Linked DNA regions of Homo sapiens: region 1 is linked to region 2. A link means that fine-mapping ties the variant in region 2 to the expression of a gene that starts in the linked region. Tissue or cell type: whole blood. Region 2 holds a variant in brackets; the other region holds the start of a gene. All regions are shown on one strand. Distances are between the middles of the regions.

What was found. PIP is the estimated chance that this variant, and not a neighbour inherited with it, causes the effect.
Region 1: it holds the start of AP1M2, and the variant in region 2 is fine-mapped to the expression of AP1M2 in whole blood (TOPMed, PIP above 0.99).

The regions. Positions count from the first base shown.
Region 1 is chr19:10,583,750-10,591,850 of GRCh38, forward strand. AP1M2 (adaptor related protein complex 1 subunit mu 2) reads right to left here and starts at 3,563. Exons shown (of 12, transcript NM_005498.5): 1 at 3,441-3,563; 2 at 165-321. The coding sequence starts at 3,482. RefSeq lists a silencer at 7,231-7,431.
Region 2 is chr19:10,620,930-10,629,030 of GRCh38, forward strand. It overlaps SLC44A2 (solute carrier family 44 member 2 (CTL2 blood group)), which reads left to right and starts at 4,624. Exons shown (of 22, transcript NM_020428.4): 1 at 4,624-4,741; 2 at 5,324-5,372; 3 at 6,793-6,866; 4 at 6,991-7,075. The coding sequence starts at 4,705. RefSeq lists an enhancer at 3,082-3,663. The variant C/G (reference allele first, on the strand shown) is at 4,632.

The DNA of each region.
Region 1 (8,101 bases), 37 kb before region 2:
TCCCTTGCCACCACCCTCATCTCTACCTGCCCCTGCCCCCCAGCCTAAGCCACAGAGATGTGCGGTGCAACTCCTGTCCTCAGCCCACCCTCTCTTGGCCTGAGCTGCCACCATCGCCGACAGCCCCCACACCCACCTCCAGGGACACCACGTGGGGTGGATACAGTAGAGGTTGCTGTGTTTGATCCATAGGAAGTGGACCTGGCCGTGGCTCAGCAGCGGGGCCAGGGCGCCTTCCTCCTCCCGCTGTACCAGCAAAGGCATGAAGTGCTCAATCTTGCTCATGGCCACATCGCCCTTGTAGTTGCGGCTGATCAATGGCTGAGGGTGGAAGGAAAGGACCTGGTCACCACCAGCATCCAAGAACCTACCACGCTGAGGAGGCACAGTGCCCGGTTCTGACCCTACTTCCTAGCTGAGGGGCTTGGGCAAGGCTCTGCCTCCTTGTGCCTGTTTCCTGCTCTGTAAAATGGGAGTGTGATGACAACAGCTAATGGGTCTAGGGCCCTCACTAAGTGCCAGGCTGTGTTTTATTAAAGGGTAGGCGATGGCTGGACGCAGTGGCTCACGCCTGTGATCCCAGCATTTTGGGAGGCCGAGGCGGGTGGATCATGAGGTCAAGAGATCGAGACCATCCTGGCCAACATGGTGAAACCCCGTCTTTACTAAAAATACAAAAAATTAGCCGGGCGTGATGGCGTGTATCTATAGTCCCAGCTACTCGGGGTGCTGAGGCAGGAGGATCACTTGAACCTGGGAGGCGGAGATTGCAGTGAGCCGAGATCGTGCCACTGCACTCCAGCCTGGCGACAGAGCAAGACTCCATCTCAAAAGAAGAAAGAGAGAAAGAAAGAAAGAAAGAAAGTAAAGAAGGAAGGGAGGAAGGGAAGGAGGGAGGGTAGGAGGGAAGGAAGGAAGGAAGGAAGGAAGGTAGGCAGGCAGGCTGGCTACTAAAAAAAGAGTAGATGTTTACTAACTTATTAGTTCTTGCCACAACCCTGTGGGGTAGATGTTATCATCATCTCCATTTCACACAGGAGAAGTGAGGTTAGAAACCATGTCCACTGGAAGCATATGGAAACTGGGGATTGATCTAAGGCATCCTGGGTCCAGAATCCCTGCTGTTGCCCCAGACTTCATTTGCACCAAAGTGGGATTATTTAAAAAAACAACAACAACAAAAAAAAAAAACAAAGAAGAGGCCAGGTGCAATGACTCACTCATGAAGACCAAGGCAGGAGGATCCCTTGAGGCCAGGAGTTTGAGACCAGCTTTGGCAACATAGCGGGATCCCTCTACAAAAAATTTCAAGAATTAGCTGAGCATGGTGGCCTGCACCTCTGTAGTCACAGCTACTCTGGAGGCTAAGGCAGAAGAATCAATTGAGCCTAGGAGGTCGAGACTACAGTGAGCTGTGGTCATACTACTGCACTCCAGCCCGAGCAACAGAGTGAGACCCTGTCAAAAAAAGAAAGAAGAAAAGAAAGAAAGAAAGAAGGAAAGAAGGAAAGAAGGAAAGAAAGAAAGAAGAAAAAAAGAAAGAAAGAAAGAAAGAAAGAAAGAAAGAAAGAAAGAAAGAAAGAAAGAAAGAAAGAAAGAAAGAAAGATGACAGTTCATATGATTGTGCCTGGTAGTCAGGAAGACACCCATAATAGTAAACACTTCTGTCTGGACACGGTGGCTCACGCCTTTAATCCCAGCACTTTGGGAGGCTAAGGCGGGTGGATCATGAGGTCAAGAGTTCGAGACCATCCAGGCCAACATGATGAAACCCCGTCTCTACTAAAAATACAAAAATTAGCTTGGTGTGCTGGCGCATGACCGTAATCCCAGCTACTCAGGAGGCTAAGGCATGAGAATCACTTGAACCCAGGAGGTGAAGGTTGCTGTGAGCTGAGATCACACCAGCCTGGTGACAGAGCGAGACTCCATCTCCAAAAAAAAAAAAAATTAGTTAACCACTTCCTAAGGTTGTTTTGTCCAGTGTCTGAACAGGGAGGACCCATGGCAGGTTCTCAAACATCTTAGCTCTCACTATTAATATTAATGGGAATATTATTTTCACCACCACTCTTATTTTGGCTATTAAATGACAAGACAGGCTGACTGCAGTGGCTCACACCTGTCATCCGAACACTTTGGGAGGCTGAAGCAGGGGGATAGCTGGGGACCAGGAGTTCAAGACCATCCTGGACAACATAGCAAGACTCCATCTGTACAAAAAAATAAAAATAAAAAATAGGCCGGGTGCGGCCGGGCGCAGTGGCTCATGTCTGTAATCCCAGCACTTTGGGAGGCCGAGGTGGGCGGATCACGAGGTCAAGAGATTGAGACCATCCTGCCCAACATGGTGAAACCCCATCTCTACTAAAGATACAAAAAATTAGCCGGGCGTGATGGTGCGCGCCTGTAATCCCAGCTACTCAGGAGGCTGAGGAAGGAGAATCACTTGAACCTGGGAGGTGGAGGTTGCAGTGAGCCAAGATCATGCCATTGCACTCCAGCCTGGGTGACAAGGCGAGACTCTGTCTTGAAAAAAAAAAAAAATACAAAAATTAGCCAGGCATGGTGGCATGCACCTGTAGTCCCAGCTACTCGGGAGGCTGAGGCAGGAGAATTGCTTCAACCCGGGAGGTGGAGGTTGCAGTGAGCCAAGATGGAGCCACTGCACTCCAGCCTGGGTGACAGAGCAAGACTCTATTTAAAAAAAAAAAAAAAAAAAAATTAAAAATAGCCGGGCATGGAGGGGTCAGCCCGCAGCCCCAGATATTCAGGAGTTTGAGAGCAGCTTTGGCAACATAGCGGGATCCCTCTACAAAAAAATGTCAAGAATTAGCCAGGCATGGTGGCCTGCACCTGTGTAGTCACAGCTACTCCGGAGACTGAGGCAGGAGGATCGCTTGAGCCCAGGAATTCCAGGCTGCAGTGAGCTATGATCGCACCACTGCACTCAAGCCTGGGAGACAGCAAGAGACCCTGTCTCCAAAATAAAAAAAGACAAGAGGAATAAAAGGACTTCAGGAAGAGGCAAGGCAGCCACAGATGGGGGGAGTTAGAGGCCCCTGTTCCAGTTGCCTTCCCCAGGTATTAACACTGTGGATGCCGACAGTGATGGAGATAATTTCAATTTGCTGAGTCCCTAATATTTCCAGAAAGGCCACTATGCTAAGTAGTTTACACGCAGCGAGTTGTATTAATTCTCATTGGGTGGGGACCTCTGTTGCTCCCATTTTTACATACAGAGAAACTGAGGCCCTAGGAGGCGAACCCCTTGGCCTCAGGCACAAGGCGAGTGGATGCTGGAGGTGGGATTCCCAGGGATTGCAGGGGGAGGGGGTGTTCCCAGACCTCTTCCTGGCCCGCGCGGAGGGGTCGCCCCTGAATCCCTGGGAGCGAGACCTCACCTGTCCGTCTCCCAACTCCTCATGCCCAGCCTCACCTTGCCCTTAACGTCCAGAATGAAGACAGCCGAGGCGGACATGGTGGCGGCCGAAGGACTTAGGAGTCGGGGAGGGAGCGCCGGGAGGCGATGGCGGCGCCGCTTCCTTCTTCCTGCGGAAGCGCCTGCGCCCAGGTGAGAGCCCAGGTGTGTGCGTCTTAAAGGGGAGGCGGCCAGGTGAGCAGCGCTGTCGGCCAACTTGAAGATGGCTGCGGGGCCGGGAGAGGTACTGCGACTTCAGATGGGTCTGCTGCCCCCCTTCACTTTCCCTAGCCACCCAGGAGTAATGACGGGTGGAGACCCCAAACCAATCAACCATCCTTCCATCCATTCATTCATCCTTCCTTTCATTCATCTATCCATCCATTCGTCCATCCATCCATTCATTCTTGCATTCATTAATCCATCCACGCATCCACTCATTTAGCCATTCATTAATCCATCTTCCATCGATTCATTGATCCATCCTTCCATTCGTCATCCATTTCTTCATCCATTTTTGCATTCATTTATTTGTTCGTCTATCCATTATCCATTCATCCATCCATTTATTCATCCATTCATTCATCCCTTCTTGCATTCATTCATTTATTCATCTTTCCATTCATCCATCCATTCATCCATTCTAACATTCATCAATTTATTCATCTATCCATCCATCCATCCATCCGTTCATCCATTCTTGCATCATTAATTTATTCATCTATCCATTCATCAATCCATCCATCCATCCATTCTTGCATTCATTAATTTATTCATCTATCCATTCATCCACCCATCTATCCATTCATTCATCCTCTCATTGATTCATCCATCCATTCACCTTCTTTCTCCTCTGTCTCACCCACACACGTCAGCCCCCATACAGCAGGGACTTTGTCTTGTTCATGTTTATGTCCCTAGTGCTCAGCACTGGGTGCTCAAAATTTGCCCAATTCATTCATTCACTCATTCATATAATAATTTTCACTGGTGAATTTTACTGACTGAATTTGAAATATTCATTCACTCAGTAACAGGAACTGTGGATATAATTCCGAGCAGGACAAATGTACTTGCTTTTATTATTCTTACAAATTTACTCTTATTCATTTCAAATAAAAAATTTATTTTTTTTTGTTTTTTGAAATGGAGTCTCACTCTGTTGCCCATGCTGGAGTGCAGTGGAATGATTTTGGCTCACTGCAACCTCCACCTCCCAGGTTCAAGCAATCCTCCTGCCTCAGCACCCCTAGTAGCTGGGATTACAGGCAAGCGCCACCATGCCCAGCTAATTTTTTTTTTTTTTTAGACTCCAGGCTGGAGTGCAGTGGCATGATCTCTACTCACTACAACCTCCGCTTCCCGGGTTCAAGGGATTCTGCTGCCTCAGCCTCCCAAGTAGCTGGGATTACAGGTATGCGCCATCACGCCTGGCTAATTTTGTATTTTTAATAGAGATGGGGTTTCACCATGTTGGCCAGGCTGGTCTCGAACTCCCGACCTCAGGTGATCCACCCGCCTCAGCGTCCCAAAGGGCTGAGATTACAGGCGTGAGCCACCGCACCCAGCCAAAAAACTTTTTTTGTAGAGACAGGGTCTCACTCTGTACCCTAGACTGGACTGCAGTGATGCAATCATGGCTCACTACAGCCTCAACTTCCTGGGCTCAAGCCATCCTCCTGCCTCAGCCTCCCTAGTAACTGGAACTACAGGCACAAACCGCCACACCCAGCTAATTTTTTTTGAGACAGAATTTTGCTCTAGTTTACCAGGCTAGAGTGCAGTGATGTGATCTCGGCTCGCTGAAACCTATGCCTCCTAGGTTCAAGCAATTCTCCTGCCTCAGCCTCCCGAGTAGCTGAGATTACAGGCATGCGCCACCATGCCCGGCTACTTTTTTTGTATTTTTAGTAGAGACAGGGTTTCTCCATGTTGGTCAGGCTGGTCTTGAACTCACGACCTCAGGTGATCCACCCGCCTTGGCCTCCCAAATTGCTAGGATGACAGATGTGAGCCACTGCGCCTGGCCACAACTAGCTAATTTTTTTTTTTTTTTTTAATTTGGAGTCTCGTCCTGTTGCCCAGGCTGGAGTGCAATGGCACAATCTCGGCTCACTGCAACCTCTGCCTCCCAGGCTCAAGCGATTCTGCTGCCTCAGCCTCCCAAGTAACTGGGATTACAGGCGTGCACCACCAAGCCCAGCTAATTTTTTGTATCTTTAGTAGAGATGGGGTTTCACCATGTTGGCCAGGCTGGTCTCGAACTCCTGACCTCGTGATCCATCTGCCTTGGCCTCCCAAAATGCTGGGATTACAGGCGTGAGCCACTGCGCCTGGCCCACACCTAGCTGATTTTTTTTTTTTTTTTTGAGACAGAGTCTGGCTTTGTCGCCCAGGATGGAGTGCAGTGGCGCAATCTCTGCTCACTGCAACCTCTGCCTCCCAGCTTCAAGCAATTCTCTGCCTCAGACTCCCAAGTAGCTGGGATTACAGGCGCCTGCCACCACGCCCGGCTAATTTTTTTTTTGTATTTTTAGTAGAGACGGGGGTTTCACCATCTTGGCCAGGCTGGTCTTGAACTCCTGACCTCGTGATCCACCCGCCTCAGCCTCCCAAAATGCTGGGATGACAGGTGTGAGCCACCGCGCCAGGCCAGGCCCACCTAGCTAATTTTTTTTTTTCTTTGAGATGGAGTCTCGCTCTGTTACCCAGGCTGGAGTGCAATGGCGCGATCTCAACTCACTGCAAGCTCCGCCTCCCAGGTTCACACCATTCTCCTGCCTCAGCCTCCCGAGTGGCTGGGACTACAGGCGCCTGCCAACACGCCTGGCTAACTTTTTGTACTTTTAGTAAAGACAGGGTTTCACCATGTTAGCCAGGATGGTCTGGATCTCCTGACCTCGTGATCCGCCCGCTTCGGCCTCCCAAAGTGCTGGGACTACAGGTGTAAGCCACCGCACCCGGCCCGACCTAGCTAATTTTTACATTTTTTGTAGAGATGGTGTATCGGTATGTTGCCCAGGCTGGTCTCAAACTCCTGGGCTCAAGCGATCCTCCCCCCTTGGCCCTCCAAAGTACTGGGATTACAGGCGTAGTCTGAGCCACTGTGCCTGGTTTGTGCAGATTAAATGAGTTATTCTGTGCAACGTGGTGTTGGAAGGGAACTTGGATGTAGCTGACTGTCAACCATGTCGCTGAGAAGGAGGAGGATGAAGATGATGATCTGGATGATGATGTAGCAGTTGAGAGCACAGATGCTGGGTTTGATTTTTGATACCACCACACACTGGCTATAAGGCATGGGCTGGTGAATGCACCTGCTGTGCCTCAGTCTCCTCTTATGTTAAATGGGTATAACAGCCATGGTGCCCTCTCCTGCAGTTGCATAGCCAAATACCTGGCATGGCCCCTGGCTCCATGCATGTTTCGTGCACACCAGCTGCTGCAGACCCAGATTCCACCCCTGGACTTTCCTTTTTTTTTTCTTTTGAAATGGAGTCTCAGTCTGTCGCCAGGCTGGAGTGCAGTGGTGCGATCTCAGCTCACTGCAACCTCTGTCTCCTGGGTTCAAGCGATTCTCCTGCCTCAGCCTCCCAAGTAGCTGGGACTACAGGTGCACTCCACCATGCCCAGCTAATTTTTGTATTTTTATTAGAGATGGGGTTTCACCATGTTGACCAGGATGCTGTCGAACTCTTGACCTCGTGATCCGCCCACCTCAGCCTCCCAAAGTGCGGTAGTTTTGAGGACAGGGCAGAAGGAAAGGGAAAGTAAACCTCAGCCTTGCTTAGAACCACCTTGCTTGGCTGAGGGAGGGAGATGTCCTGCAGGGCCTGCAGGGAACAAGACTCAGCCTACCCAGACCTCACTTGTCCTTTCCCCAAACCCTGCCCAGCCCTTTATCAGCCCCTGTAGGTGGGGACTTAGAGAACAGCAGCTATCAGGATCATCCACTTGCCTCTCCACCTGAAATTAACATCAACATTGACAGCAGCACTGCACTTTAATTAAAACATTATCATCTGGGCCAGGAGCAATGTTTCATGCCTGTATCCCAGCACTTTGGGAGGCCAAGGTGGACAGAGCACCTGAGGCCAGGAGTTTGAGACCAGCCTGGCCAACATGGCGAAACCCTGTCTCCACTAAAAATACAAAAATTAGCCGGGCGTGGTGACGCATGCCTGTAATTCCAGCTACTTGGGAGGCTGAGGCAGAAGAATCACTTGAACTGGGGAGGCGGAGGTTATAGTGAGCCGAGATGGCACCACTGCACTCCAGCCTGGGTGACAGAGTGAGACTCCGTCTCAAGAAAATAAATAAATAGAATGAAAAATAAAAAGTTATCATCTGGCACAAGTCTCCTTCGTGCCATCTTATAAAGGTAGAAGCAGGGACACAGAGAAGTGAAGGCACCTGCCCAAGCCCACGGCCCCAGAGCCAGGAGGCAGTTGACCCAGAATTCGAATCTGAGTCCCGGGATTTAAGAATCTGGTCCCAGCCTGCTTCCGCCTGCTTTGCTATATTGCTGGATGCAAATATTACTATTAGTAACACTAACTCTGGCTTAAATGGTGCTCACCATAAGTGAGGGTGGCCCTAAATGTCGCCCATGCAGGAATCCTCAAGACAGCCCCTTGAATTACAGAAGCCTATTTTTTTTTTTTATTTATTTGAGACAA
Region 2 (8,101 bases):
TTGGGAGGCTGAGGCGAGAAGATCATTTGAGCCTAGGAGGTTTAGGCTGCAGTGAGCTATGATTGCTCCACTGCATTCCAGGCTGAGTGACAAAGCAAGACTCTATTTGATAATAACAACAAAGAGAAAGTCATAGGGGTCAGGTATAGTGGCTCATGCCTATAATCCCAGCACTTTGGGAGGCCAAGGTGGGCAGATCACTTGAGGTCAGGAGTTCGAGACCAGTAGTAGAGACATGGTAAAAGCCAGTCTCTGCTACTAAAAATACAAAAATCAGCCAGGCACGTTGGTGTGTGCCTGTAGTCCCAGCTACTTGGGAGCCTGAGGCAGGAGAACTACTTGAACCCGGGAGGTGGAGGTTGCAGTGAGCCTAGATGGCACCACTGCACTCCAGCCTGGGCGACAGAGCGAGACTCTGCCTCAAAAAAGAAAAAAAAAATGAAAGAAAGAAAAGAAAAGGTCATAGGACAGAGAGGAAAGGGATGGTTGGGTGTTTTTTTTTTTTTTTTTTTGGTTTTTGTGGGTTTTCTTTTAGATGGAGTCTTGCTCTGTCACCCAGGCTGGAGTACAGTGCCAGGATCTTGGCTCATTGCAGCCTCGACCTCTTGGTCTCAGGTGATCCTCCCACCTCCACCTCCCAAGTTGCTGGGACTACAGGTATGTGTCACCACACCTGGCTAATTTTTAATTTAATTTATTTATTTTTGAGACGGAGTTTCACTCTTGTTGCCCAGACTGGAGTGCAATGGCATGATCTCAGCTTGCTGCAACCTCCGCTTCCCAGGTTCAAGCGATTCTCGTGCCTCAGCCTCCCAAGTAGCTGGGACTACAGGCATGCACCACCTCGCCCCGGCTAATTTTTGTAGTAATAGAAACAGGGTTTCTCCATGTTGGTCAGGCTGGTCTGGAACTCCCGACCTCAGGTGATCTGCCCACCTTGGCCTCCCAAAGTGCTGGGATTATAGGCGTGAGCCACTGCGCCTGGCCTCACCTGGCTAATTTTTGTACTTTTAGTAGAGATGGGGTTTCACAGTGTTGCCCAGGCTGGTCTCGAACTACTGGCCTCCAGTGATCTGCCTGTCTCAGCCTCCCCAAGTGCTAAGATGACAGGCTTGAGCCACCACGCCTTGCCAAGGTGATATTTCAGGCAAGGCCTGAAGGCAACGGAGCTGTATGGATGTCTGAGAGAAGAGCATTCTAAGCAGAGGGACCGAGCAGCTAGTGCAAAGGCCCTGAGGTCAGACCATGCCTGCTGAGCGTGGGACGTACCCAGGAGGCCAGTGAGGCTGAACAGAGTAAGCCATGGAGAGAGAGAGGGAGGAGGTGAGGGCAGGGAGGTGACAGGGCAGGTCATGCAAGGCTTTGTGGGCTGTGGCGAAGAGCTGGGCTTTTTCCTCGGAATGAGGTGGGAACCATGGAGGTTTCTGAGCAGAGCAGGGATGTGTCCTGACTTAGGTGTGCACAGATGTCTCTGGCCGCTATAGTGAGGATAGAAAGTGTCTGTGTTGGTCCAGGCAGGAGATGACAGGGCTGTGTGAAAGGGTGGGTGCTTGAGGAGCAGGTGAGAAGAGGTTGGATTCTGGATAGCTCTGAAGGCAAAACTGATCTCAAGCAGAGAGGCAGCCCAGGTTCCTGGCCAGAGCACGTGGGAGGATGGAGCGGAGTCATGGGATAATCAGAAGCTTGGACAGGCCAGGCACGGTGGCTCACACCTATAATTACAGCACTTTGGGAGGCTGAGGTGGGAGGATCCCTGAGGCCAGGAGTTCCAGACCAGCCTGGGCAACATTGCGAGACCCTGTCTCTACTAAAAATACAAAAAATTACCTGAGTGTGGTGGCGCGTGCCTGTGATCCCAGCTACTCAGGAGGCTGAGGTGGGAGGATCGCCTGAGCCCAGGAGGTCAAAGCTACAGTGAGCTGTGATTATGCCACTGCATTCCAGCCTGGGCGACAGAGTGAGACCCTGTCTCAAAAACAAAAAAGCTTAGATGCCGCCGCACTGAGTATGAGATGCTCACGTGTGTTGGGGGGAGACAGATGTCACATAGGTGTGCAGCTCAGAGACAAGGGTTTCCAGAGGGCTTAACTTTTGGGACTCCTCAGTGTGGAGCTGGTGGGTGGGGCCTGAATAAATTGTCCCCAGGGCACCCTGTGTAGTTGGGAAGAGAAGAGGCCTGTGGCTCGCTCTCTTTGTCCACTGCTTGGAATGGGTAGGGTGGGACCAGCCAGCCTTTGGGCTGGCAGAGACTTCGAGAACCACAGGGCTTCTTTAGGAGTCTGGGTCACCCCAGGGCATGACCTGGCGCCTCAGGCCTTGCCTGTGGTCCAGGTGTTTAGACAGGGCCCCTCTGCTGGTGGCTACTAGGAGGAGAGGGCGCCTTTTTAAGGATAAGTTGAGTTAGTGACCAGAGCCCTGCCTGCGAGTCCTAGAGTCTAAGGCAGCAGCTACAATTATTGGACACCAAATGTATATGATCACGCTGACTGTATAACCTCATGCTGTCTGTGTACACCCAGCACTAAATGTATATTCCTGCTGAGGATACCTCCACACCACCTGTATAATGCCATGTTAACCAAATAATTGGCTGCACTATAAATATCTATAAATATTCAAGTAGAGGCAGGTTGTGGCGTGGTGACTCGTGCCTGCAATCCCAGCACTTTGGGAGGTTGAGGTGGGAGGATTGCTTAAGGCCAGGAGTTTGAGCCCAGCCTGGGTAACACAGTGAGATCCTGTCTCTATTTTTATTGTATTGTATTTTTTTTTTTTTTTGAGGCGGAGTCTCGCTCTGTCGCCCAGGCTGGAGTACAGTGGCATAATCTCGGCTCACTGCAACCTCTACCTCCCAGGTTCAAACGATTCTCCTACTTCAGCCTCCCCAGTAGCTGGGATTACAGGTGCCCACCACCACACCTGGCTAATTTTTGTATTTTTAGTACAGACAGGGTTTTGCCTTGTTGGCCAGGCTGGTCTTGAACTCCTGACCTCAGTGATCTGCCCGCCTCGGCCTCCCACAGTGCTGGGATTACAGGCATGAACCACCACACCCGGCTAATTTTTGATTTATTGATTGATTGATTTTTTGAGACACTCGCTCTGTCACCCAGGCTGGAGTGCAGTGGCACGATCTCGGCTCATTGCAACCTCCGCCTCTCGGGTTGAAGTGATTCTCCTGCCTCAGCCTCCCAAGTAGCTGGGACTACAGGTGCACACCACAACATCCAGCTAATTTTTGTATTTTTAGTACAGACGGGGTTTCACCAAGTTGGCCAGGATGGTCTCGATCTCTTGACCTCATGATCCGCCCACCTCGGCCTCCCAAAGTGCTGGGATTATAGGTGTTAGCCACCACACCCAGCCTATTTTCTTTTTTCTTTTTCTTTTTGGAGACAGAGTCTCACTCTGTCCCCCAGGTTGGAGTGCAGTGAGGCAATCTTGGCTCACTGCAACCTCCACCTCCTGGGTTTAAGCGATTCTCCTGCCTCAGCTTCCCAAGTAGCTGGGATTACAGGCATGTGCCACCACACTGGCTAATGTTTGTATTTTTAGTAGAGAAGGGGTTTCACCATGTTGGCCAGGCTGGCTTAGAAATCCTGATCGACCTGCCTCAGCCTCCCAGAGTGCTGGGATTACAGGCATGAGCCACTGCACCTGGCCTATGCCTGCTCTTTGAGGTCAGTTTTGGTTTCATACTTTAGCCTCATTTTGCAGTTGAGGAAACTGAGGCTTAAGGAAGATAAGCCCTTTGTTAAGTATCCTCTAGTTCAGAGGGTGCAGAAGGAGCATTTGAATTCAGGGCGACCCAGGAGGATGTGGGCTCCACAAGGGTGGAGATTGGGTCTCTCTGGTTCCTCACTGTATGCGGTGCCCCGCCCAAGGCCTGCACCCACTAAGGGCTGAATAAATACTTGTTCTAAGACCAGGCCCAGTAGTGCACGCAGGTAATCCCAGCACTTTGGGGGGCCACGGTGGGAGGAGCCCACGAGTCCAGGAGTTAAAGATGAGCCTGGGCAACATAGCAACATCCCATCTCTACAAAAAAAATTAAAAATTAGCCGAGTGCAGTAGAGCACCTGTAGTCCCAGCTACTCAGGAGGCTTAGTCAGGAGGATGGCTTGAGGCAGGGAGGTCGAGACTGCGATGAGCTGTGATTGCACCACTGCACTCCAGCCTGGGCAACAGAGGGAGATCCTGTCTCAAAAAAAAAAAGCAGCAGACAGAAAGAAAACTAATTTCCTGCACAGCTTGGAGAAGTTTTCAGCACCAACATTCCACAGTTGGTTGTCTGGGTTTGGGCAGTAGGCCGTTTTCCCTCCCAGTGCCTCAGTTTCCACACCTGCAAAACGAAGCCACGGAAACGCCCTTTCAGGGTGGCCAGGGGTTCTAGGCGGCATCGCCCGGTGGCAGGGTGTTCCCAGGGTGAAGCCGCAGGGTTCCCGGGTGGGGGCGGGGAAGGCTAAATGCGGCCGGCCGGTGAGTGGCGGGAGCAGCTGCAGCCCCGCCCGCGCCCTCCCGGGTCCCTTAGTCTGGGCAGCTGCCCAGCTCGGGCCGGTCTGACCGGTTTGGGCCGCCCCGCCTGGCGCTGTGCTGGGAGGAGCCGCCGCCAGTCGCGCGGTCAGTGCCTC[C/G]CTCCAGACTCGGGAGGGTCGAGGGGGCGCGGGAGAGAGCGCGGGCGGCCGCCGGGGCTGGTCGCCTGCAGGGATGGGGGACGAGCGGCCCCACTACTACGGGAAACACGGTAGGCAGCGACCCCCGCCCGTAGCCCCGGGCCGACCCCTCGGTCCCTCGGAGGGGGCCTTGAGAGAACATGGGGCGCAGGGAAGGGGGCTGGAGGGGGAGCGCAATTGCAAATCTGCGCCTGGAGCCTCCCCACCATCAGCCAGGCCCCTTCACCCCACTTATCCCCCGCAGCCTCGCAGACGACCCTCCTTACTCTCCCCTACCCGAAGGACCTGCCCCTGTACCCCTCTGCCTGGCACTGCTGCCGGCGCCTCCTTCCCCCTATCCCACCTCAGATCTTCCCCATCTCCACCTGGTTCCGTGGTGGTCACCATTTCAGCCCTCTTCCCAGTGGGTGGCCGCCAGTTAATAAGTTTGTTCACAGTTAGTGATCCCTCCTTCCTCCCCTGTCCTGGCCTGCCAGAACTGGGGGCTTGGGTGTGGTCACCTGGAGGTGGGTGAGGCAGAAAATTCCACAGGTCTCTGAATTTTATTCTTGCCAAGGCAAAGACACCCCTAGGGGCTTTTGGGAGGGGGCTCTCCCAGCCCTGTCTTGGTTCAGGTCTCCAATCCCATCCATCTTAATCTTCTTGACTTTCAGGAACGCCACAGAAGTATGATCCCACTTTCAAAGGACCCATTTACAATAGGTAAGAGCTCTGGGTTTTGGGGGGTTCTCCCCGCTAATACTACCCCAATCCCTGTCTCTTCACACCCCCTCCCATCTGTTCTCCAACAAACTGGTGACAAATATTTGAAACTTTTTTTTTTTTTTGAGATGGAGTCTTGCTCTGTCACCAGGCTGGAGTGCCGTGGCGCGATCTCAATCTCGGCTCACTGCAACCTTCGCCTCCCGGGTTCGAGCAATTCTCCCACCTCAGTCTCCCAAGTAGCTGGGATTACAGGCTTGCACCACCACACCTGGCTAATTTTTTTTTTTTTTTGTACTTTTAGCAGAGATGTTTCGCTGTGTTGCCCATGCTGGTCTCGACCTCGTGAGCTCAAAGCGATCCACCTGCCTTGGCCTCCCAAAGTGCTGGGATTACAGGTGTGAGTTACCACACCTGGCCTGGACTTAATTTTTACCATGTTTATATTTATTTATTTATTTATTTATTTTTGAGATGGAGTCTCACTCTGTCACCCAGGCTGGAGTGGTGCAATCTCAGCTCACTGCAACCTTCCCCTCCTGGTTCAAGCACGTCTTCTGTCTCAGCCTCTCCAGTAGCTGTGACTACTCAGAGGCTACTCAGAAGGCTGAGGCAGGAGAATTGCTTGAATCTGGGAGGTGGAGGTTGCAGTAAGCTGAGATTGCGCCACTGCACTCCAGCCTGGAGGACAAGAGCGAGACTCTGTCTCAAAAAAAAATAACAAAAAAATAAAATACAGCCAGGCACGGTGGCTCACACCTATAATCCCAGCACTTTGGGAGGCCAAGGCAGGTGGATCACTTGAGGTTAGGAGTTCGAGACCAGCCTGGCTAACATGGTGAAACCCTGTCTCTACTAAAAATACAAGAATTAGCTGGGCATGGTGGCGGGCACCTATAATCCCAGCTACTTGGGAGACTGAGGCAGGAGAATCGCTTGAACCTGGGAGGTAGAGGTTGCAGTAAGCTGAGATCGTTCCACTGCACTCCAGCCTGGGCGACAGAGTGAGATTCCCTCTCAAAAAAAAAAAAAAAGTCTAGCTTGGGCAACATAGCGAGACCTTGTCTCTACAGAATGTATATAAATTAAAAAAAAAATGTGTGGTGGTGTGCACCTGTAGTCTCAACTACTTGGGAAGCTGAGGCAGGAGGATCACTTGAGCCCAGGAGTTCGAGGCTGTAGTGAGCTATGATCATGCCACTGTACTCCAGCCTGGATGACGGAGTGAGACTCTGTTGCACAAAATTAAAAAATGAAATGAAATAAAAATTAAAATGCATGTGCCCTTTGGTACGGCATTCAAACGACTCAGGAAAATTTGTCCAAATAACACATGGATGAGGGTGTTTGCAGAGGGCAGATGGGCCCATGGTGCACACAGCACCAAGCCTCCTCCAAACACTGCCCCTCTGCTCCCCAGGGGCTGCACGGATATCATATGCTGTGTGTTCCTGCTCCTGGCCATTGTGGGCTACGTGGCTGTAGGCATCATAGGTGAGTAGAGAATGAGCAGGACTTGGAGTTGCAGGGTAGGCGGAGGCAGCCATGGCCTCTGGAGTGGGAACAGGGCTGGATCTGAGGAGTGGCAGTGTCTCAGTATCCCTGGATCTTTCCACAGCCTGGACTCATGGAGACCCTCGAAAGGTGATCTACCCCACTGACAGCCGGGGCGAGTTCTGCGGGCAGAAGGGCACAAAAAACGAGTGAGTTGACTCCTTGCGGCCTGGTGGGGCTGGGGAAGAGGGGGCAGAAGATTCTAGGCATTCCCCATCTCTCTAAGTCCAGTTAACAAGTGCTTATAGGCTGGGCGCGGTGACTCACGCCCGAAATTCCAACACTTTGGGAGGCCGAGGCAGGAATATTGCTTTAGGCTAGGAGTTCGAGACCAGCCTGGCCAACATGGCAAAACCCCGTCTCCACTAAAAATACACAAATTAGCCAGGCATGGTGGCACATGCCTGTAATCCCAGCTACTCAGGAGGCTGAGGCAGGAGAATCACTTGAACCACAGGAGGCAGAAGTTGCAATGAGCCGAGATCGTGCCACTGCACTTTAGCCTGGGGCACAGAGTGAGACTCTGTCTCAAAACAAACAAGCAAAAATTAAGTGGACGTGGTGGGGCACACCTCTAGTCCCAGCTACCCAGCAGGCTGAGGTGGGAGGATAGCTTGAGCTGGGAGGCCAAGGCTGCAGTAAGGTATGATTGTACCATTGCACTCCAGCCTGGACGACAGAGCGAGACCTGGTCTCAACAAAACAACAAGAAAAGAAAACAAGTACTGATAAACGTCCCACTACCCTCAGCCACTAGTCTAGTCCTTGGGGACACACAGCTCTAAATGAGATAGTAAGCATCCTGTTCTCTGGCAGCACACATTTTAAGGGCGGGAGAGACTGAGAGGGGACAGTCCTGGATTACGCGTCAGGTGGTGATGAACAGGTGAGACAACAGAGCAAGCATAGCCTGAGTGGCGTCACTTCCTGGCTCTGTGACCTAGGGCAGGTGTCTCAATCTCTCTGAACCTCGTTTTCCTCATCTCTAAAATGAGGATCATAACAGTCCCACCCTCATGGGGCTATTTTGATGGTTAGATGTGCCAATACATGTACAGAGCTTAGAATGCCACCTGGCATCGCTGGGCGTGGTGGCTCACACCTGTAATCCCAGCACACTTTGGGAGGCTGAGGTGGGAGGATCAAGACCAGCCTAGTCAACATGGTGAAACCCC